Regions from separate parts of the Homo sapiens genome. Here region 2 is linked to region 1. The links come from fine-mapping of genetic effects on gene expression. A gene starts in region 1. The other region holds a variant in brackets. All regions are shown on one strand. Distances are between the middles of the regions. Region 1 holds the start of IFI30 (IFI30 lysosomal thiol reductase). Region 2 holds the start of MPV17L2 (MPV17 mitochondrial inner membrane protein like 2).

Region 1 (11,356 bases):
CCTCCGGGCATTGCCCTCTCCATGGCTCTGGTCACCCTGACCCTCTGCCCTGCCCACCGCAGGTCCCCCGGGGTCCCGGAAGCCCCTTCTGGCTGCACCTGCCATGTTTACAGAGGGCCCCTGGGCTGCGCGGCCCCAGCCTGGGCACCCTGATTTTTAAGCCATAGACCTGGGGTCAGGGCAGGAAGGAACTTCACTCTGCTGCTTCCGAGAACCTCGGCCGTGACATTCGGGGCCGGGCGGGACCCGCCCCACAGACTCCAACTTCCCCTCCAAACCCCGAAGTGAAACCCGCCACCGGGTTACCCCCACAAGGGGGCCGCTGCGAGAAGTTCACCCACCCCCGAAAAAATAATTAAACTCGCAGGCCAGGCACGGTGGCTCATGCCTGTAATCCCAGCACTTTGGGAGGCCAAGACGGGCGGATCTTTTGAGGTCGGGAGTTGGAGGCCAGCCTGGCCAAAATGGCAAAACCCCGCATCTACTAAAATACAAAAATTAGCCGGGCGTGGTGGCGGCCGCCTGTAATCCCAGCTACTTGGGAGGCTGAGGCGTGAGAATCTCTTGAACCCAGGAGATGGAGGTTGCAGTGAGCAGAGATCGTGCCACTGCACTCCAGCCTGGGTAACAGAGGGAGACTCCTCCGTCTCAAAAAAATAAATAAATAAACTTGTGAGCTGGCCCCAACCCCTCCTAGGAATCACAGCTCCCCGTACTGGTGCCGCCGCAGTGGCCAAGTTGCGACACTGCCCACGGCCCCTCCCTCTGATGCAGATTCAGGGCTTCTCTTCGATCATGTTGGGTTTTGATTCTGTTTTTCCTTGACTGCAAAACCCTCTTTCCTCTCCTCTTTTGGGACAAGAGCCCTGGTTTTCTACGCTGCCCTTGGCCACCACACTGCCTGCCCCACGAGCTGGGAGGCAGGTTTTGTACGGTACGTTGTTATTGATATGATATAAAACATCAAACGTCGTGGGTGATTCTGTTGTCAGTGACTGGGCTTCAGTACCACCTCTGCGTGTCGGGGACCCTGGTGTCTACGGGGGTCACAGCAGGTCGGACCCGTGGGTTTAACTCCAAGCCCCTCTGAGACCCGACAACCCCTCCCTCCCCCAGTTTAGCTGCTCAAGCCTGGAGAGGTTGAGGCAGTGCCCAAGGTCATACAGGAGAGAGATTCGAATCCTGAGCTCCCGACTGCTCAGGGGACCCCAGACCCCATCCAGCCCCTCAAGTGCTTCCAAGCTGCTTCCCCCGCCCACCGCCCCCAAATTTGAATCCTGTCGCAACCATCAGCTGTGTCCTTGGGAAAGTTGTATCCCCTCCCTGATCCACAGCTTCCTCATTCATTGCCAAGTGGCGTCAAAAGTCAAAACCCTCCCATGCCACAGGGAGGAGTCTCCCGTGTCTTTGATGTTCTCAAGTCGTCGGCACCTCCAGCCAGCATTGGAGGCTCTTCTCTGACCTCTCCTCACCCACTCCCATGCACAGCCCGCCGGGTCCCAGGAGACGCTGAGCAAAAGCCCTGTGGGGTTTTTTGTGTTTCTTTTTAAAGAGTCAAGGTCTCTCACTCTGTCACCCAGGCTGGAGTGCAGTTGTGCGAACACAGCTCGCGGCTCACAGCCTCAAGCTCCTGGTTCCCAGCCTCAAGCAGTCCTCTCATCTCAGCCTTTAGAGTCACTGGATTACGGGTGTGTGTCACCATGTCCAGCTAATTATTTTTAAATTTTTTTAGAAACAAGATCTTGCCGAGTGCAGTGGCTCACACCTGTAATTCCAGCACTTGGGGAAGCCAAGGCAGGCAGATCACTTGAGGTCAGGAGTTTGAGACCAGCCTGGCCAACATGGTAAAACCTGGTCTCCACTAAAAATACAAAAAAAAATTAGCCAGACATGGTGGCGCATGCCTGTAATCCCAGCTACTTGGGAGGCTGAGATAGGAAGATCAGATGAACCTGGGAGGTCAACGCTGCACCAAGCCAAGATCGTGCCACTGTTCTCCAGCCTGGGTGACAGAGTGAGACTCTGTCTCAAGAAAAAAAAAAAAAAAAAGGGTCTTGCCCTTTTCCAGGTGGGTCTCAAACTCCTGGCCTCTAGTGATCCTCCCACCTCAGCCTCCCTGAGTCGCGTAAGCCACCACGCGTGGCCTCATGGCGTCTTTGACTTGGACTCCTGTTTACCACCCTCCCCATCACACCCAGAATCCACACCCCCACTGCGACGTCATTGTCCCTTCAGCCCTCCCCAACCCTGGGGCCTCACTGTCCTTGTCTGTTTTGTACAGCCACCTCTCAAGGCCCAACAAGGCTGAACCTGGGGCAAGTGCAGAAAGAAACCTCCACTCTGACCCAGTCTACTGCTGGGACCTTGGGACAGGACCTGCCTCCCTTAGCCTCAGAGCCCCCTAGCCTTGCCAGGCACTGTCCCTGCCATGTGTCCTGTCTGGAGATAACCCATAAATAACTCCAGCCCAGATTGTGCCTCTCACTGCATAGGTGCTCACAGGAGAAAGGTTGCCATCTTTATGATCCCAGCTATGCTGAGCTGGGGGTGGAAGAGAATATCCCGTGTGGTCTCTAAAAACACTCAACCACTGGCTGTGTGTCCTTGGCAAAATAGCCTTCCCTCTCTGATCAGCCATTTATTTGTTACCAGCTGGAGTCAGTAGCACCTACCCCCAGCCCCAACTGGATGCTTCTGAGGGTTCAATGATAAAATGGGTTGTAGGCCCACTCTATGCCTGGCACCAAGCCAGAGAGCAATACATTGTAGGGTTACATTTATGATTTCTTCCAATAGGGCTGGTGCCTGGTAACTACTGGAAAAATTGTAGCAATTATATTTATGGTTATTTCTTCAATCCCACCCGGCATAGGGTAAGCACCAAAGTTGGGGTGGTGAGTCTTGGGGAGCCTTTGCCAACGGTTTGGTCGTCTGAGGGATGGGCTCGGGGACCATCCAGCCACTGGGACTTCAGAGAAGCTCCGGCTCCCAAACCAGCTACTGTGTGTGTGGCCAGGGTCTTCCCCACAACTAGAGGGGGGCACAGCTGGGGACTCAGGTATATCTTCCAGCTGGGTGTGGGACATTTTCTTCCCTAGGATCCGATGTGTCTTGCCCTGAATGTAAGGCCTGGCAGGGTTGGAATGTCTCAGTTATTCCCCCAACACTCCAGCCTCCATCTGGGCCTTTTTTCCAGGCTATTCTCTCTGCCTTCACTGTTGGGGCCACTGTCCTGTGTAGGCACCAAGGCCTGACCATGCCATCCAGAAGCCCCAGCCTGGGACAACTCTCCCCCACCTGCCTCTGAGCCCTCCATGGTGACTCTTGTTCCCCAAACCTTATCCTTCTCCCCATTACACAGAAGGGAAAGCTGAGGCTCTGTCACTCAAATCCAAAGCCAGGTGGACTCCAAGCCACCCCACCCCTATCCCAGACAGCACAGGCTGCCTCTCTCCCCCATGGGCGTCCCTTGAAGGCCAGGTTGCCCCCCACCCCCCACAAGCCTTGAACGATGAAAAGAAGGAAGGCCAGTTCTCTTCACCCCAAGCCAGAAGTGGGGCTGGGTGGGTACCCTAGAGAAATGACACGCCACTCCCTGCGCCAGCTTCTGCTTTCCGGCGTGGCTGTGGTCAAGCCTGAGTCAGTCCCACGGGACCACGGTGAGGGGTCTGGAGCGTCGGGGTCAGGAGTTTGAGGGGGGAAGGGTTGAGGGGCAGGATGTGGGGGTTGGGTGTGAGGGAGGTCACGGGCGAGACTGGAGGGAGGAGACCTGGCCACACAGGCCTTGCCCACTCTCGGGGGCCTGAATATTTCAGTTACTCCCCCAAAACCCCGGCCTCCATCCCATCCCCAGCCTCCATCCGACGTCACCCCTGTTAGGTCACAGGCCCACTCTGAGAGTGGGTCTCGGGCCTCAAGTCCCCTAGCCGCCCCTAGAAGGTCTAGGGGTGCGTGGAGACACCACCATTCCTCTCAGCCTGTGTCTGTCTCAAAGGCCCCACCTCACCTCCCCTAAAGGTAGTCTTGCGCCAGGGCTCACGTGCCTGGGCAGGGCTGATTGCCAAGGGGCCCAATGGCCTCGTGACTGGGGACCCAGCACCTGGCAGGGGTGGGGGTGGGACACTCAGAGGAAGGAGTGGAGGAGGGAGAGACGCTGGCCCGGGACCCGAGGGGCGTGGGCATCGGGAGGCGGGCCCGGGTTAGGGGCGGGACCGCCGCCTGGTTAAAGGCGCTTATTTCCCAGGCAGCCGCTGCAGTCGCCACACCTTTGCCCCTGCTGCGATGACCCTGTCGCCACTTCTGCTGTTCCTGCCACCGCTGCTGCTGCTGCTGGACGTCCCCACGGCGGCGGTGCAGGCGTCCCCTCTGCAAGCGTTAGACTTCTTTGGGAATGGGCCACCAGTTAACTACAAGGTAGGGACGGCGACAGGGCGGGCAGGCTGGAGGGAACAGGCGCCCTGTCGGGGCACGCGGCTCCTTCTTTCTCCCCAGACTTCACAGGGGAAGACCAGGGCCCCGAGGGGACGCTGTCCCTGCCGGGTTCCTGGAAAAACCCTGTTCAGTTCCCGGCGCTGCGGCCACACTCCCTCCGTGCCGTTTCGCTTTCGCATCCCGCATCTGAGAGGCGCAGCTGCCTCCACCCGCCTAGTCCCGCCCAAGGGTTCAATGAGCGCCTACTGTGTACTTTTGGGGCAGGAGCTGGGGTCTCCTTTTGTGGCCCAGGGCACAAGTTCAGCAGCTGGCCAAGGGCCGCCGGCATGCATTCTTGCTGCTACCCTTGATGCATTCATTCCAGCCAGGGCAGGGCTCGCGTGTCTTTGGGACCTATTAGGCAGATGCCCTAGAGGCTGAGCGACTTGCTCACCGCTCCAGCGACATGGGCCACCCGCCACCCCTCAGCTGAAGCCGGAAGTCAGCACCTATTAGGTGCCGCCTCTATTCAGTCGGACTTGGAAAGGGTTCACGTGGATCCCTTGCTCAGCTCAGAGGCAAGGTCTCCAGGTGAAGTGACAAGAAATGAGCATGGGCCAAGGCCGGAGGCGGTGGCTCATGCCTGTAATCCCAACACTTTGGAAGTCTGAGGCAGGCAGATCACGAGGTCAGGAGTTCGAGACCATTCTGGCCTACATGGAGAAACCCTGTCTCTACTAAAAATACAAAAATTAGCTGGGTGTGGTGGCATGTGCCTATAATCCCAGCTACTCAGGAGGCTGAGGCAGGACAATTGCTTGAACCAGGGAGTCGGGTGTTGCAGTGAGCCGAGATCGTGCCGCAGCACACCAGCCTAGCGACAGTGAGACTCCATCTCAAAAAAAAAAAAAAAAGTCTCAAAGTCAAGATTCCACCTGGCAAGTTCTGGAAGGCGTGCAAGATGAATTGCGTATCACAGCCCCCTTTCTACAAGACTACCAAGTGGGGTTGAGAGAAGTGGGGAACTGCCCAGGGCTACACCTGCCTCCCACGCCTTCCTAATCCACAGACAGGCAATCTATACCTGCGGGGGCCCCTGAAGAAGTCCAATGCACCGCTTGTCAATGTGACCCTCTACTATGAAGCACTGTGCGGTGGCTGCCGAGCCTTCCTGATCCGGGAGCTCTTCCCAACATGGCTGTTGGTCATGGAGATCCTCAATGTCACGCTGGTGCCCTACGGAAACGCACAGGTGTGTGGGCGCTGGGGAAACTGAGGCACGTGGGCAGGGGAGCAGGGGACCCAGCCTACCAGCAGGCTCTCACCCTGCTGCCTTGCAGGAACAAAATGTCAGTGGCAGGTGGGAGTTCAAGTGCCAGCATGGAGAAGAGGAGTGCAAATTCAACAAGGTGGAGGTGAGCGGCCCCAGGGCCCCACACTGGGGTGGGGGAAAACTGTCCCACGTACAGGAGGCAAATACGAGGATGCCAGCTCTGTCTTCTGCCTCGTGTGCTCCCATTTAATCACATCTTTATTCCCTATCTCCTGGGTGGGTACTGGTGATTATTACGAGAGGGTGTCAGGGTACCCTAGGCCCTCTTCATGCCCTCTCCTGCCCCCTCTCCAAACCCCAGGCCTGCGTGTTGGATGAACTTGACATGGAGCTAGCCTTCCTGACCATTGTCTGCATGGAAGAGTTTGAGGACATGGAGAGAAGTCTGCCACTAGTGAGTGACGCCCCTCACTCCACCCAAGGAGGGGGACATGGGTGGTAACCTTCCCTGCATCCAGGCAGACCCAAATTCAAGTCCTAGCCCTGACCACTGCTGTCTGTGCAGCCCAGGAAAACAACTACCCTTCTTTATTTTATTTATTTTTTTATTTTTTCTTGAGACAGAGTCTCGCTCTGTCGCCCAGGCTGGAATGCAGTGGCGCAATCCCAGCTCACTGCAACCTCCACCTCCAGGGTTCAAGTGATTCTCCAGCCTCAGCCTCCTGAGTAGCTGGGATTACAGTTGTGTGCCACCATGCCCAGCTAATTTTTGTGTTTTTAGTAGAGACAGGGTTTCACCATGTTGGTCAGGCTTGTCTTGAACTCCTGACCTTGTGATCCGCCTGCCTTGGCCTCCCAAAGTGCTGGGATTACAGGCGTGAGCCACCGCACCCAGCCCTTTTTTTTTTTTTTTTTTTTTTTTTTTTTTTGAGACAGGGTTTTGCTCTGTCGCCCAGGCTGGAGTGCAGTGGTGCAATCTTGGCTGACTGCAACCACTGTCTCCTCAGTTTAAGTGATCCTCCTGCCTCAGCTTCCCCAGTAGCTGGGACTACAGGTGTGCACCACCATGCCCGGCTAATTTTTGTATTTTTAGTAGAGACAGTGTTCACCATGTTGGCCAGGCTGGTCTCAAACTCCTGACCTCAAGTTATCCGCCTGTCCCAGCCTCCCAAAGGATTACAGGTGTAAGCCACCACGCCCGGCCCCAGCCTCCCCTCTTGAAGCCTCCATCTCTGAATCAGGGGAATGAATGCAGGTCTCTTAGGAGCATGAGTGATCACAGAGGACTTACTGGAGGAGGCATTTCTGAGCTGGGCATGGAAGGATGAGCAGGAATGTGCAGAGACACAGATGATGGGATGTGGAGATGATAGGACAGACCCCACCTACTTCCCCGGGGGATTGTGAAGAATGACTCCCAGAGAAGTGACTCATTGGCTCCAATCATTTATTCATTCATCAAACATCCGGGTCACCCAAGAGGCCTCACCTAGTGACACCCTAGTCCTGCAGGGTTAGATCAGGGCTGAGAGAGTGGCAAGGAGAGGGCACTGAGGAGACACTGTGGAAGGAGGATGAAGGGTGTTCCTGGCAGAGGGATCAGCCTGTGTGGAGGTCCTGAGTAAAGTGAGATACTATGGGGGTCAGAGGCAGTGGGTCTGGTCTTAGGGATGAAACCAAGGGAGCTAGGAGGCAGGAGCAGCCCAAGCCCTGCCTTAGGGGCCTCCACTCAAGCATGTATTGAGCACCTGCTGTTTGTGGGCTTTGTCGCATCACTGTGAAGCCAACTGTACCCTCTTCTCAGTGACGAAACAGGCTTGGCTCAGGGCTGGTGGGCGGGACCGTTGAGATAACGGGGAGGAAGCTGAGGCAACCCCCTGCTCCCCACCCACCCAGTGCCTGCAGCTCTACGCCCCAGGGCTGTCGCCAGACACTATCATGGAGTGTGCAATGGGGGACCGCGGCATGCAGCTCATGCACGCCAACGCCCAGCGGACAGATGCTCTCCAGCCACCACACGAGTATGTGCCCTGGGTCACCGTCAATGGGGTAAGAATCTTTTTAGCCCTCAGCTTGACACTCATAGTCCCATGGAGTCAGGGATGGACAAGACAGAGGGACCAGAGATAAAGGAACCCAGGCGGAGGTTGCAGTGAGCTGAGATCATGCCACTGCACTCCAGCCTGGGCAACAAGAGCAAAACTTGATAGCTTTGCATAGGGAAAGAGGGCATTGATGCTGGGGTTTTGAAAGGTGAGTAGGAGTCCATCAGGCAAAAAAAGTATGTATTAATTCGAAGTATTAAACATCCCTAGCCACCCCCATTGGGAAAGATGTGCCACTGATTTGCGAGGCGGGAGGCGGGGGCCAGACTTGGGAATATGTGCAGCCCTTTCTGGGCTGGAACCAGGGTGCATGGGTTGGGGTAGCTGCTGGGAATATGCGACCCCTGTCTTGCTTTGTGCAGAAACCCTTGGAAGATCAGACCCAGCTCCTTACCCTTGTCTGCCAGTTGTACCAGGTAAGCTGGGAGGGGAGCAGTGGGATTCAGGTGGTGGGGGTAGGGTCTCCTTCCAGGACCCCAACTCATGGCCTTCACCTCCAGGGCAAGAAGCCGGATGTCTGCCCTTCCTCAACCAGCTCCCTCAGGAGTGTTTGCTTCAAGTGATGGCCGGTGAGCTGCGGAGAGCTCATGGAAGGCGAGTGGGAACCCGGCTGCCTGCCTTTTTTTCTGATCCAGACCCTCGGCACCTGCTACTTACCAACTGGAAAATTTTATGCATCCCATGAAGCCCAGATACACAAAATTCCACCCCATGATCAAGAATCCTGCTCCACTAAGAATGGTGCTAAAGTAAAACTAGTTTAATAAGCCCTTCTGGATGGTGTAATTAATTTGATAAGTCAGCCATTCCCCCTTCCCCAGGCCTGGCAAAACCCGCTCTCTACTAAAAATACAAAAATTAGCCAGGCGCGGTGGCGGGCGCCTGTAATCCCAGCTACTTGGGAGGCTGAGGCAGGAGAATTGCTTGAACCCGGCAGGCAGAGGTTGCAGTGAGCCGAAATCGCGCCACTGTGCTCCAGCCTGGGCGACAAGAGCAAAATTCCATCTCAAAATTTTAAAAAAGTGACTGGTTGTGGCCGGGTGAGGTGGCTCACGTCTATAATTCCTGCACTTTGGGAGGTCAAGGTAGGAGGATTGCTTGAGGACAGGAGTTTGACACCAGCTTTGGCATGAAAGCAAGACCCTGTCTTTACAAAACATGAAAATAAAAAGAATTAGCAGGACATGGCAGCGAGCAACTGTGGTACTCGGGAGGCTGAGGCAGGAGGATCACTTGAGCACAGGAGGTCAAGGCTGCAGTGAGCCATAATTACACCACTGCACTGCAGCCTGGGCCAGAGAGCAAGACTCTGCCTCTTTTTTTTTTTTTTTTTTTTTTTTTTTTTGAGACGGAGTTTCGCTCTTGTTGCCCAGGCTGAAGGGAAACGCGTGATCTCGGTTCACCACAACCTCTGCCTCTTCAGTTCAAGCGATTCTCCTGCCTCAGCCTCCTGAGTAGCTGGGATTACAGACACATGCCACCACGCCCAGCTAATTTTGTGTTTTTAGTAGAGACAGGGTTCTTCCATGTTGGTCAGGCTAGTCTCGAACTCCTGACCTCATGATCCATCTGTCTCGGCCTCCCAAAGTGCTGGGATTACAGGCGAAAGCCACCACACCCAGCCAAGACTCTGCCTTTTAAAAGAAAAAGAAGGGAAAGAACATGTTCAGTGTTGTATTTTTTCCTACTGATGGACTGGTCAAATCATAGATGTATATATTCTTCCTTCGAGGAAGTGAGGCTTAATTCCACTCCCTACAAATATCTTTGTTTCTCTTTATTTTGAGATGGAGTCTAGCTGTGTTGCCCAGGCTGGTCTCAAACTCGTGGGCTCAAGCGATCCTTCTTGAGGATCCTGAAGTGCTGCGATTATAGACGTGAGCCAGCGTGCCGGGCCCTACAACCACCTTGACAGTGAACTAGATTGAGTAACTTGATTCCAAAGAGTAGAACAGGAAAAGTGAAAAAGAATACCCCGGCTGTGCGCGGTGGCTCAAACCTGTAATCACAGCACTTTGGGAGGCTGAGGTGGGTGGATCACTTGAGGTCAGGAGTTCAAGACCAGCCTGGCCAACATGGCGAAACCCTGTCTCTACTAAAAATACAAAAATTAGGCTGGATGCGGTGTCTCACACCTGTAATCCCAGCACTTTGGGAGGCCCAGGCAGGCAGATCACCTAAGGTCAGAAGTTTGAGACCAGCCTGGCAAACATGGCAAAACCCTGTCTCTACTAAAAAATACAAAAGTTGGTCAGGCGCGGTGGCTCACGCCTGTAATCTCAGCACTTTGGGAGGCCGAGGCGGGTGGATCACAAGGTCAGGAGATCAAGTCCATCCTGGCTAACACGGTGAAACCCCGTCTCTACTAAAAATACAAAAAACTAGCTGGGCGTGGTGGCAGGCACCTGTAGTCCCAGCTACTCGGGAGGCTGAGGCAGGAAAATGGCGTGAACCTGGGAGGCGGAGCTTGCAGTGAGCCAAGATCATGCCACTGTACTCCAGCCTGGGCGACAGAGCAAGACTCTGTCTCAAAAAAAAAAATTTAAAAAATACAAAAGTTAGCCATGCGTGGTGGTGCACGCCTGTAATCCCAGCTACTCCAGAGGCTGAGATGGGAGAATGGCTTGAACCCGGGAGGCAGGGGTTGCAGTGAGCCGAGATCACGCCACTGCTCTCCAGCCTGGGCAACAGAGAGAGACCCCATCTCAAAATAAATAAATAAATAAATACAAATCATCAAGTAGCAAAGGTGGCATGTTTTGAGGTGGCACGTCCTGAACTTCCTCATTCCCTGGCTGAATTGGTGGTGGAGAGAAATTCAGGGTAGAAGTTCTGAAGTAACACATCTACAGAAGGGGTAGAAAAAGACAGATTAGAACAAATAGAAAGGAATAAATATAAGCACACTATGCCAGATATTGTCGAATCAGTATCTTTGTCCTGAGAATAGGTTAGCTTGGTTACACACTTGTATCTCATTTTATTTTATTTATTTATTTATTTTTTGAGACGGAGTTTCGCTCTTGTTACCCGGGCTGGAGTGCAATGGCATGATCGTGGTCTTGGCTCACCACAACCTCCACCTCTGGAGTTCGAGCGATTCTCTTGCCTCAGCCTCCCAAGTAGCTGGAATTACAGGCATGCGCCACCACACCCAGCTAATTTTGTATTTTTTTTTTTTTTTTTGAGACGGAGTTTTGCTCTTGTTGACCAGGCTGGAGTGCAATGGCATGATCTCGGCTCACTGCAACCTCCGCCTCCCAGGTTCAAGCAATTCTCCTGCCTCAGCCTCCCGAGTAGCTGGGATTACAGGCATGCACCATCATGCCCGGCTAATTTGTTGTATTTTTAGTAGAGACGGGGTTTCTCCAAGTCGAGGCTGGTCTCGAACTCCTGACCTCAGGTGATCCGCCCGCCTCGGCCTCCCAAAGTGCTGGGATTACAGGCGTGAGCCACCGCGCCCAGCAATTTTGTATTTTTAGTAGAGACGGGGTTTCACCATGTTGGCCAGGATCGTCTCCAACTCCCGACCTCAAGTGATCTGCCTACCTCGGCCTCCCAAAGTGCT
Region 2 (11,986 bases), 19 kb after region 1:
TGTGCCCAGCTGTCTTTCCTAAAAATAGATTTTAGTCTACCTGGGCCGGGCACGGTGGCTCATGCCTGTAATCCCAGCACTTTGGGAGGCCGAGGTGGGCGGATCACAAGGTCAGGAGATCGAGACCATCCTGGCTAACATGGTGAAACCCCCTCTCTACTAAAAATACAAAAAATTAGCCAGGCGTGGTGGCTGGTGCCTGTGGTCCCAGCTACTGGGGAGGCTGAGGCAGGAGAATGGCGTGAGCCCGGGAGGCGGAGCTTGCAGCGAGCCGAGATCGCGCCACTGCACTCCAGCCTGGGCGACAGAGCGAGACTCTGTCTCAAAAAAAAAAGATTTTAGTCTACCTGAATTAGCCCGATAAGGAAGTCCCCTCTGCTTTAACACTTACCAAAAAAAGTAACCTGAAGTTAATCAGGTTTTTCTTTTTCTTTCTTTCTTTCTTTCTTTTTTTTTTTTTTTTTTTTTGAGATAGAGTCTAGCTCTGTCGCCAGGCTGGAGTGCAAGTGGCACGATCTTGGCTCACTGCAACCTCCACCTCCCCGGGTTCACGCCATTCTCCTGCCTCAGCCTCTCTGAGTAACTGGGACTACGGGCGCCCGCCACCACACCCGTCTAATTTTTTGTATTTTTAGTAGAGACGGGGTTTCACTGTGGTCTCGATCTCCTGACCTCATGATCCGCCCACCTCGGCCTCCCAAAGTGCTGGGATTACAGGCGTGAGCCACCGCACCGGCCTTATTATTATTATTATTTTTTAAGATATTCTGTAGTTATGGATTGGAAAAATCCATATTGTCAAAATGTCCATACTACACAAAGCAACCTACAGATTCAATGCAATTTCCATCAAAATACAATACCAATGACATTCTTCACACAAAACAGAAAGAACAGTTCTAAAAAACAGTCCTAAATTTATATGAAATCACAAAAGACCTTGAATAGCCAAAACTATCCTGAGCAAACAGAACAAAACTGGAGGAATCCCATTACCCAACATTCAATTATACTATAGATCTACAGTAACAAAAACAGCATAGTACCAGCACAAAAATAGACACATACATAAATGGAACAGAATGGAGAACCCAGAACCAAATCCATACATCTACATTGAATTCTTTTTTACTATTATTATACTTTAAGTTCTGGGATCCATGTGCAGAACGTGCAGAAGGTGCAGGTTTGTTACATAGGTATGTATACACGTGCCATGGTGGTTTGCTGCACCCATCAACCGGTCATCTACATTAGGTATTTCTCCTAATGCTGGCCGGGTGCGGTGGCTCACGCTTGTAATCCCAGCACTTTGGGAGGCCGAGGCGGGCTGATCACGAGGTCAGGAGATCGAGACCAAGGTGAAACCCCGTCTCTACTAAAAATACAAAAAATTAGACGGGCGTGGTGGCGGGCGCCTGTAGTCCCAGTTACTCGGAGAGGCTGAGGCAGGAGAATGGCGTGAACCCGGGAGGCGGAGCTTGCAGCCAGCCGAGATCGCGCCACTGCACTCCAGCCTGGATGACAGAGCGAGACTCCGTCTCAAAAAAAAAAAAAAAAAAAAGAAGTTATTTCTCCTAATGCTATCCCTCCCCTATCCCACCCTCTGACAGGTCCCGGAATGTGATGTTCCCCTCCCTGTGTCCATGTGTTCTCATTGTTCAACTCCCACTTTCTTTTTCTTTTTTTTTTTTTTTGAGACAGTCTGGCTCTGTCACCCAGGCTGGAGTGCGGTGGCGCAATCTCGGCTCACTGCAGCCTCTGCCTCCAGGGTTCAAGCGACTCCCCTGCCTCACCCTCCGGAGTAGCTGGAATCACAGGTGGGGGCCACCACACCCAGTGGTTTGTTTGTTTGTTTGTTTGTTTGTTTGTTTGTTTTTTGAGACGGAGTCTCGCCCTGTTGCCAGGCCGGAGTGCAGTGGTGAGATCTCGGCTCACTGCAACCTCCACCTCCCGGGTTCAAGCGATTCTCCTGCCTCAGCCTCTTGAGTAGCTGGGACTACAGGCGTGTGCCACCGTGCCCAGCTCATTTTTGTATTTTTAGTAGAAACGGTGTTTCACCGTGTTGACCAGATTGGTCTCAATCACTTGGCCTCATGATTCGGACGCCTTGGCCTCCCTAAGTACTGGGATTACAGGCCTGAGCCACCTCGCCCGGCATTGATCAGGTTTTTTTTGTATTGTTCTGTTTATTTGTCCCACTTTACGAAACTCACTGTTCTCCTATTGCCCAGGGGGACATGTCATTTTATCTATTCTCAGTAACTCATGCCTGTAATTCCAGCACTTTTGGATGCAAAAGTGGGCGGATTGCTTCAGTACAGTTCAAGGCTAGCCTGGGCAACATAGTGAGACCCTGTCTCTACTAAAGAGGAAAAAAAAACAAAACCTTTCTTTAAATAAAAGTTTTAAATTGGGGGAAGGAAGGAAGAAGGCTCTATCTCAAAAAAAAAATCAGAAAACCATGAAGGGTGTCCTCTGACTGGGCAAATTTTTGTTGTAAAAACCCATATTGTAGGCTGGGCATGGTGGCTCACTCTTGTAATCCCAGCACTTTGGGAGGCCGAGGCAGGTGGATTTGAGATCAGGGGTTCAAGACCAGCCTGAGTAACATGGTGAAACCCCGTCTCTACAAAACTACAAAAAATAGCTAGGCATGGCGGCGGGTGCCTGTAATCCCAGCTACTCATGAGGCTGAGGCAGGAGAATCGCTTGAACCTGGAAGGCAAATGTTGCTGTGAGCTGATATTGTGCCACTGCACTCCAGCCTGGGCAACAGAGTAAGACTCCGTCTCAAAAAAAAAAAAAAGCCATATTTCAGTTTTACTTTTTACAGGCCAACAAATGGCATGATTGTGTTTCAATGACGTTTGGCTTATTCTATGACCTGAAAATTATATGAAATGCAAATTTGTGTCCATAAGTAAAACTTTATTGAAACACAATCATGCCATTTGTTGACAAAAAGAGTGAAACTCTGTAAAATATGGGCCGGGCGCGGTGGCTCACGCCTGTAATCCCAGCACTTTGGGAGGCCGAGGCGGGCGGATCATGAGGTCAGGAGATCGAGACCATCCTGGCTAACACGGTGAAACCCTGTCTCTACTAAAAATATAAAAAATTAGCCGGGTTTGGTGGCGGGAACCTGTAGTCCCAGCTACTCGCCAGGCTGAGGCGGGAAAATGGCGTGAACCCGGGAGGTGGAGCTTGCAGTGAGCCAAGATCGCGCCACTGCACTCTAGCCTGGGCCACAGAGCGAGACTCTCTCAAAAAAAAAAAAGAAACTCCGTAAAATATTTAAAGAGGTTAATTCTGAGCCAAACGTGAGTGACCACGGCCCTAGGCACAGCCTTTTTTTTTTTTTTTTTTTTTTTTTTTTGAGACAGTCTCGCTCTGTGGCCCAGACTGGAGCTATCTCGGTTCACTGCAACCTCCACCTCTCGGGTTCAAGAGATTACCCTGCCTCAGCCTCCCGAGTGGCTGGGATTACAGGCGCCCACCACCACGCCCCTGGCTAATTTCTGTATTTTTAATAGAGATGGGGTTTTACCATGTTGGCCAGGCTGGTTTTGAATTCCTGACCTCAGGTGATCCAGCTGCCTCCGCCTCCCAAACTGTTTGGGATTACAGGCGTGAGCCACTGCGCCTGGCCAATCCCCACCTTCTTGACTGACCATTTAAAAAATGTAAGAAACACCTTTAGCTCATCATGAGCAGCACAAAACAGGCAGGGACAGGATTTGGCCCTGAGGCAGGAGAATAGGTCTGGAGGCAGGGAACATAAGGCCAAATCAAATGGAAACAATTCAGCTATGACAGGAAATATCTTCTCCATTTAAAGAGGGCATACATCCAGTAAATGACTTTGTAACTTTACTTCATCCTCTTCATTTACATAGGACGTACATTAAGTAACCAGTGAAAACCTCTAGAGGGCATTTAAACCCCAGAAAATTCTTAAACAGGTCTCTTGAGTCCGTATGCTCCACTGGCTCCCACCCTGCGGAGTGTACTTTCGTTTTCAATAAATCTCTGCTTTTGTTAAGCTTCATTCTTTCCTTGCTTTGTTTGTGCACTTTGTCCAATTCTTTGTTCAAGATGCCAAGAACCTGCACACCTTCAACAGTTAACAGCCCACAGGCAGTAGTTTGCGACTCTAGTAGAGAATGCATAGGGATTTCCATTGAAAATCATTTTTTAAGCCAGTTACGGTGGTTCACGCCTATCATCATCCCAGCACCTTGGGAGGCCAAGGCGGGTGGATCTCTTGAGGTCAGGAGTTCGAGACCAGCCTGGCTAACATGGCAAAACCCCTGTCTAGACCAAAAATACAAAATTAGTTGGGCGTGGTGGCCCGTGCCTGTAATCCCAGCTGTTTGGGAGGCTGCGACACGAGAATCGCTTGAACCCGGGAGGGAGAGGTTGCGGTGAGCCGAGATCGCGCCACCGCACTCCAGCCTGGGTGACAGAGCGAGACTCCATTTCAAAAAAAGAAAAAAAATAATTGTTCCCTACGGGAACGGTATAATTAGGATATAATTGTTTCTGGCCACAGATCACATCCCTTCTGGTTAAGTCCAGGAGAATCTGGAAATACGTAGGGCAACCAGGCCAGAAGGCGTTGTAACTGCCTAAGATTGACCAACCCTAACGCGGGAGGCGGGACGACGGTCACTGATTTGCCAGCGTGACGCCGGTCTGCGACTGGCCAGTGCCGTCCTGGGCGTGTCGGTAGGACGGGGCTGCGACGGTTTCCCATAGGCTGGCACAGAAAGGGGCGGGGAAACAAGAGTGCAACGTTACCAATCGGCATGCGGGACGTAACGCAATTCTTTTTTCCGATTGGTCCGTGAAGCTCGGGAGGTCGTTGGGGGCTCGACCTTGGGATAGAACGCCTGCCTTTTATTGGTCAATACTCTTCGGGCCGGGCAATGTGGCTCCCCGAGGCTGCCTGCGATTGGTGAACGCGTCGCGGCTCGGGGCGGACCTGCGGACTGAAGATCCTTATGCGATTGGCCGGGGAGCCGGAGGGGCGGGCAATTTGGGATCGACAGTGACTCGCGACTGGTCGGCGCGGCGAAAGCAGAGCGGCGCGCCGGTTCCTTGGTTCCTGAGGGCGATGGCGCGGGGTGGCTGGCGCCGGCTACGCCGCCTGTTATCCGCGGGGCAGCTTCTATTCCAGGGCCGCGCGCTGCTCGTCACTAACACGCTGGGCTGCGGCGCGCTCATGGCGGCCGGTGATGGCGTGCGCCAGTCCTGGGAGATCCGCGCCCGGCCCGGCCAGGTTTTCGACCCACGGCGCTCCGGTGAGGACGCCACGCTGCTTAGTCCTTCACCCCGGGCGACCTTTGATCCCGACACCCGACTGCGGGCCGTGACCCCTGACCCGTGGCCTCAGTCCCCCGCAGGACCCTTGCCCTGACCGCGCCTCTCCCCGGGTGTCTGTCTCCCCGCAGCTCTGGGTCTCCATCACCTCCCAACCCCCGGAGGTCTCTGCCCACTACCCAGGAGCCTCTGGAGCCGCGCCTCCTGGTGGGGCTTGTAGTGGAAGAATGCACGGGTGGGCTCTTCCGGTTTTCCCGGTGAGGCTGAGGCTCCGGGATGGCATTGGGCTTACCCAGGCCTTAGCCAGGGAGGGAGAGAGGGAATGGACTGAGGAACTTGCCGGCCCGACCCAGCCCCCTGACTTACACTCTTATAGCGAGCATGTTTGCGGTGGGCTGCAGCATGGGTCCCTTCCTGCACTACTGGTACTTGTCGCTGGACCGCCTATTCCCTGCGTCTGGCCTCCGAGGCTTCCCAAATGTCCTCAAGAAGGTCCTCGTGGATCAGCTGGTAGCCTCTCCATTGCTGGGCGTCTGGTACTTCTTGGGTAAGGAGCCTCCTAAGCCTAGGCTTTGCCTCTCATAGGTCGGGAGGGGTGGAGCCAGCTTTGTGTTAAGAAGGATGCAGAGGTGCATTTCCAATTTGCCCCCTGTTTGGGTCGCCCTGGACTAGGAGCCAGGTCACAGCGGGGACAGGACGGACTCGGCCGATGTGAACGCTGGCGAGTGTAGGAGGGACGAGGACTGTATCTGTTGGGGCTGCCCTGGGCGGGAGGTTGAGAGCATTTCCCAAAGAAGGGGACCACACTCAGTTGAGACATGAAGAGGGAACCAGCGGGCAGAGGGAACAGCTAATGCAAAGGCTCTGAGGCCTGAAGGAAGAGAAATTGAGGCTAGACTTAATGGGGTGCAACCGTGCCAGCCCTAGGCTCGGTAAAGACAGCGGTATTAATAGAGGAGTCTCTCATTCTCCACCTCCCAGCCCGGCTTCCTGGTCTGTGATGGAAAAGTAACACAACTCCCTCAACTTCAGGGTGTCTCCATTGGGGCACGTGTTTATATGTTTATAACCTCTCTTTCTCTCACTGGGACTGACTTGCTCTGTTTTGTCTCTACACCAGCTACCCTAATTCTCTGTCCATCCCATCTGAAAGTCCCTGTCCCTCTGCCCGGGGTGGGCGGCGTGGGCTCTCAGGGGCCCAACCCCGCCCCCTCCATCGTCAGCCCATCTTGTCGTCTCAACAGTACTTCCTGGCCTCTAACACTCTCATTTCTTGGTTTGCTTCCCAGGCCTTGGCTGCCTGGAGGGTCAGACAGTGGGTGAGAGCTGCCAGGAGCTGCGGGAGAAGTTCTGGGAATTCTACAAGGTGGGAGCACCCGCCCCTTGCACATGTCCGGCCCCGCCCCCTGATGGCCGCTCCGCCCCCGCCCAGCTCTGGCCCCGCCCCTCATCCCCCGCCTCTCCCCGCAGGCAGACTGGTGCGTGTGGCCTGCTGCGCAGTTCGTGAACTTCCTCTTCGTGCCCCCCCAATTTCGAGTCACCTACATCAACGGCCTGACGCTGGGCTGGGACACGTACCTGTCCTACTTGAAGTACCGGGTGAGTGTGGAGGGCATACCAGGCACCCAGGGGACTCCCCAGGGGGCTACACGTGTGAGCTCCAAGTGGCAGTGTAGCCAGCCACCCTGGAGGGTGGGAGTCTCCTGTGCTCCTGACAACCCACACCCAACAGTGGGCTGGCGGAGAGCTCCTCACTAGCAGTTAAGACCCAGCCGTGGCTGAGCGCCGTGGCTCATGCCTGTAATCCCAGCACTTTGGGAGGCCGAAGCGGGTGGATCGCCTGAAATTGGAGTTAGAGAGCAGACTGGGCAATATGGTGAAACCCCTTCTCTACTAAAAATACAAAAAATTACTGGTACGCACCTGTAATTCCAGTTACTTGAGAGGCTGAGGCAGGAGAATTGCTTGAACCCAGGAGGCAGAGGCTGCAGTGAGCCAAGATCATGCCACTGCACTCCAGCCTAGGTGACAGAGCGAGACTCCGTTTCAAAAAAAAAAGACCCATGCCGGGCGCGGTGGCTCACGCCTGTAATCCCAGCACTTTGGGAGGCCGAGGCAGGCGGATCACGAGGTCAGGAGATCGAGACCGTCCTGGCTAACATGGTGAAACCCTGTCTCTACTAAAAATACAAAAAAAAAATTAGCCGGGCGTGGTGGCGGGCGCCTGTAGTCTCAGCTACTCCGGAAGCTGAGACCGGAGAATGGCCTGAACCCGGGCAGCGAAGCTTGCAGTGAGCCGAGATCGCGCCACTGCACTCCAGCCTGGGCGACAGTTCGAGACTCCGTCTCAAACAAACAAAAAGACCCAACCCTTCTCTGCTGTCTGATGTGACCTCAGCCCGGTCCCTGCCAAGTCTGTTGAGCAGGGCTGACCTCTGGCCCAAGGGCAGGTAGAGGGACAGGGAGGGATGAGCCAGGCTTCTGACCAGATGCCTTGTCTTGTGTGGACAGAGCCCAGTTCCTCTGACACCCCCAGGCTGTGTGGCCCTGGACACCCGAGCAGACTGAACTGTCTGCTTCCTGGACCAGATGCAAGACTGTCTCCTGGCGGACCACCCCCTCTGACAGAAGGGGAATGGGCTCCTGCAGCAAGCTCGGGTCTTGAGCCACGTCCCAGCACCACTTCAGCTCCGGAGCATTGGGCTGAGCCGCCCTTTCCAAGCTCACTTCTGGGACTGAGTTTCCTCAACCGGAACACACCCATGAAGATGGATGATCATCCCCTAGCCCTTCTCAGCAGGAACCTCATGCGACCTGTGACCAAGATGTCCCATCCTCAGCACAGGGCCCACTCTGCCAACCAGTCTCAAGCACCAGCCCCTCAACACTGCCATCCACCTGGCTCTGGGCCAAGCCACCAATCCAGAGCTCCCTCAGGTCCTGGGACTAAGGCGGGGACATGACTGATCCCCTCAGAGCAGGCTCAGGCCTGGAGTCGGCCCCCAAAAGTTTCACATAGGGCCAGGCAGCCTCTGTGTTTCTTTCCCTGGTCCTGAACTGTGGAAATGCCATTAAACTCTCTCTATAATGTAACTGAAACTGCTGGCTGGGCGCAGTGGCTCCCACCTGTAATCTCAGCCCTTCCCGAGGCTGAGGTGGAAGGATTGCTCGAG[G/T]CCAGGTGTTCGAGACCAGCCTGGGCAACATAGCAAGACCCTGTCTCTATTTATATTGAAAAATAAAAATAACAAAAGAAAATGCTGTGGATGATCAAAACCAGGGTGGGCAGGACCCGGTGCTCACAGGGACACACATGGATGGTCCATTCGCTTTATTGGGTGCGTGTAGTGTTGTCATGACATCTCCTAAGGAACTGGGGGGCACGTTTGACACTCATGAGGTCAGAACAGGTCTGGTGGGCGGGGGGGGGGGGGGTCCCAGGGTGGTGAATACCCACAGCACACCCCCCCACCAAAAGAGAAAACGGGGAGAGGAGCCTGGCAGGCCAGACTCTGATCCCCATGGTCCACACAGGGAAACCCCCAACAGCGGCCTCGGCCCACCGCGGCAGAGCCGAGGGGCTGGCAGGCCTGGCCACCTCCCATTGCCCGATCAGCCTGCTTTAGGGTGTCATCTGGCCCCTCTTCACAACTGACAACTGTGGATGGGGGTGAATTTTAAAAAAAGGCGGGGGGGGGGGGTTCAGGAGGGTGAGCGGTGAGTTCACGGGGCCACGAGACACCACAGCTGAGTGGGGAAAGGGCTATATGTACAGGAGGGGCAGGGCTTGGGGCGGGCAGGGGAGCCTGGGCCCCTGGGGGACATCTTCAATAAATAAATAAATAGCTACAATAATAAATAAGGGTGACGGGCTAAGTCAGGAGCAGGGGTCTTGTGCCCGTGGCTGGTAGGGGCCGGGTCAGGCCCGGGTAGTTGGGGGAAGGTGGGGAAGACAGGGAAGAGGGGAAAGGGAGTGGGATGGCTCTCAGCAGGCGCAGTCCTGGTGCGGTGGCACCTGCTGGTCACTGAGCTGTGGGCCCTGCTTGGCGCCTGTGACCGCAGGGTCCGCCGTGTCCAACGACTCGGACATCTTCTCGCAGATGACATCCACCAGGCGCTCAAAGGTCTGCTTGACGTTAATGTTGTCCTTGGCGCTTGCCTCAAAGAACTCGAACCCTGTGGTCAGAGAAGGCAGGGATGAGGACCCTGGCCACGCCCTATGCCAACTCCCAGAGATGCTTCTCTGAGGAAAGGGAACACCTGGAGATTCCCAGTGCCAAGCAACTTATTGAAGGTACTGACAAATCCCACAGAGAAGAAACTTATTGAAGGTACTGACAAATCCCACAGAGAAGCAACATGGAACTGGGTCAGCTTTGCATTTCCTGCTTTTTTTTTTTTTTTTTTTTTTTGAGACAGGGCCTTGCTCTGCTGCCCAGGATGGAGTATGGTGGCGTGATCATAGCTCACTGCAGTCTCGACCTCCTGGGCTCAAGTGATCCTCCACCCCCACCTCTCAAATTGCTGGGATTATAGGTGTGAGCCAGCGCACCTGGCCTCCTGCCCTTCCTTCCTAAAATTGTGTCTCGTTGTCCTTAGGGACCTGGCAAGACATGCCCTGCAGCGTCCAGCCCAGCCCCGTGCACTGGCCCTGGAAGGCTCTGACACTCAAATCCAGCTGTGACCTCCCCCTGCTCACACACCCTCTGTGACTCCCTATTGCCCTCCAAAGAGTCCCAGCCTCTCAGCACATGGTTGAGGCCCTCTGTGATCGGCCACATTTCCTCCAGCTGACCCTCATGTTCCAGTCTTGTGAAATTATTACCAAAACACACAGGACCTTTCTCACTGCAAGCCTTTGCCCAAGCTATTTCCTCTGCCTGAAAGACCCTTCTTCACTACCCACCACTCCAGGAAGCCTGGCTCCTCTCATGTGCTCCTCCCATCCAGGTCCCTCCCTCTACCTCAGGGGTCCCTCGAGGCACCCCTAGATGCCTCTTGAGCCCAGCAACACCCAACAAAGCGTTGGACGGTGAGTGTCAGAATAAATCCTTAAACTTTCTGCATGGCAAACTCCTACACATCCCTCAGGATCCAACTCAAATGGCTCCTGGATGAAGGCTAGTTTGCAGAAAGTGTGAATTACCTGGCTTTAGCTGTAAGACCTTGGGTGTGTGCCCTCCCCTCTCTTAGTGTCCTTTTTCTAGACTTGTGGGTCTCCAGCCCAGCTGGGCACTCACCAAGGTGGTCAGCTAGCTGCCGGCCACGTTCTGATGACACCACCCGCTCATCCTCCATGTCACACTTGTTTCCTACCAGCAGCACCTGGGCATTGTCCCATGAGTAGGTCTTGATCTGGGTGGACCTATAGGAGGCACCAATGGGGGCAGGTCAGGGCTTGGAGGATCCCAGCTCCACCCTGACGGGCTGATGTGGAGCCTGTGTCCTTGTCCGAGGAAGAAAGACCCAGAAGCTTGCCCCTCCATCCTCCCCACCATCCTTTCCCCCAATGTGCCCCGCTTTCACCCCACTCCAGCCCCCGACTGACCCATTATTGTTTCTGTGTTTTGGGGTTTTTTTTGAGATAGAGTCTGGGTCTGTTGCCCAGGCTGGAGTATCTGCCTGCCTTCGCTTCTCAAAGTACTGGAATTACAGGCATGAGCCACCCAGCCCAGAAATTTTCTTTTTTTGAGATAGAGTCTTGCTCTGTCGCCCAGGCTGGAGTGCAGTGGCGCGATCTAGGCTCACTGCAATCTCCGCCTCCCAGGTTGAAGTGATTCTCCTGCCTCAGCCTCCTAAGTAGCTGGGACTATAGGCATGAGCCACCATGCCTGGTAATTTTTTGTGCTTTTAGTAGAGACAGGGTTTCACTATGTTGGCCACGATGGACTCGAACTCCTGAGCTCAAGATCTACCCACCTCGGCCTCCCAAGGTGCTGGGATTATAGGCATGAGCCACTGTGCCCAACCCAGAAATTTTTTTTTAAAGTTATTACTTCTGAGCAGAAAATTGAAATGTTTACAATCTCTAACCTATGCCAACTCTCCTTTTTTTTTTGAGACAGAGTTTTGCTCTTGTTGCCCAGGCTGGAGTGCAATGGCAATCTTGGCTCACTGCAACCTCCACCTCCCGGGTTCGAGCGATTCTCCTGCCTCAGGCTCCCAAGTAGCTGGGATTACAGGTGTGCGCCACCACGTCTGGCTAATTTTTGCATTCTTAGTAGAGATGGGGTTTCTCCATCTTGGTCAGGCTGGTCTCGAACTCCCGACCTCAGGTGATCCACCTGCCTCAGCCTCCCAAAGTGCTGGGATTATAGGTGTGAGCCACCGTGCCCGGCCATGCCAACTCTCCTTATAGTCTCTATATTCTCCACCCTACACTTGCAGATATTTGTTTCTATATGGTTATAGTTTTACTTTTCCATCTGAAATCCTTCTCTGACCCCTACGTTTTATTTATTATTTTTTGAAGAAAGTTTGGCTCAGAGACAATGGCCCCAGAATGAGTGTGGAAGGCCAGAAGCGATGGCTCACGCCTGTAATCCCAGCACTTTGGGAGGCCAAGGTGGGCAGATCACTTGAGCCAAGGAGTTCAAGACCAGCCTGGGCAACATGAGGAAACCCCATCTCAACTAAAAATACAAAAAAATTAGCCAGGTGTGGT

What was found. PIP is the estimated chance that this variant, and not a neighbour inherited with it, causes the effect.
Region 2: its variant is fine-mapped to the expression of IFI30 in whole blood (TOPMed, PIP above 0.99).

Annotation. Positions count from the first base shown.
Region 1 is chr19:18,169,561-18,180,916 of GRCh38, forward strand. It overlaps IFI30 (IFI30 lysosomal thiol reductase), which reads left to right and starts at 4,253. Exons shown (of 7, transcript NM_006332.5): 1 at 4,253-4,413; 2 at 5,480-5,662; 3 at 5,751-5,825; 4 at 6,045-6,137; 5 at 7,580-7,732; 6 at 8,151-8,204; 7 at 8,289-8,557. The coding sequence starts at 4,282. The coding sequence ends at 8,351. It overlaps PIK3R2 (phosphoinositide-3-kinase regulatory subunit 2), which reads left to right. Exons shown (of 16, transcript NM_005027.4): 16 at 1-972. RefSeq lists enhancers at 1,351-1,570, 4,618-4,687, 4,815-5,480 and a silencer at 3,998-4,307.
Region 2 is chr19:18,188,163-18,200,148 of GRCh38, forward strand. MPV17L2 (MPV17 mitochondrial inner membrane protein like 2) reads left to right here and starts at 5,056. Exons shown (of 5, transcript NM_032683.3): 1 at 5,056-5,306; 2 at 5,702-5,872; 3 at 6,615-6,691; 4 at 6,796-6,924; 5 at 7,837-8,786. The coding sequence starts at 5,120. The coding sequence ends at 7,893. RAB3A (RAB3A, member RAS oncogene family) reads right to left here. Exons shown (of 5, transcript NM_002866.5): 4 at 10,563-10,687; 5 at 8,622-9,498. The coding sequence ends at 9,308. RefSeq lists a silencer at 4,581-4,760 and an enhancer at 5,151-5,200. The variant G/T (reference allele first, on the strand shown) is at 8,499.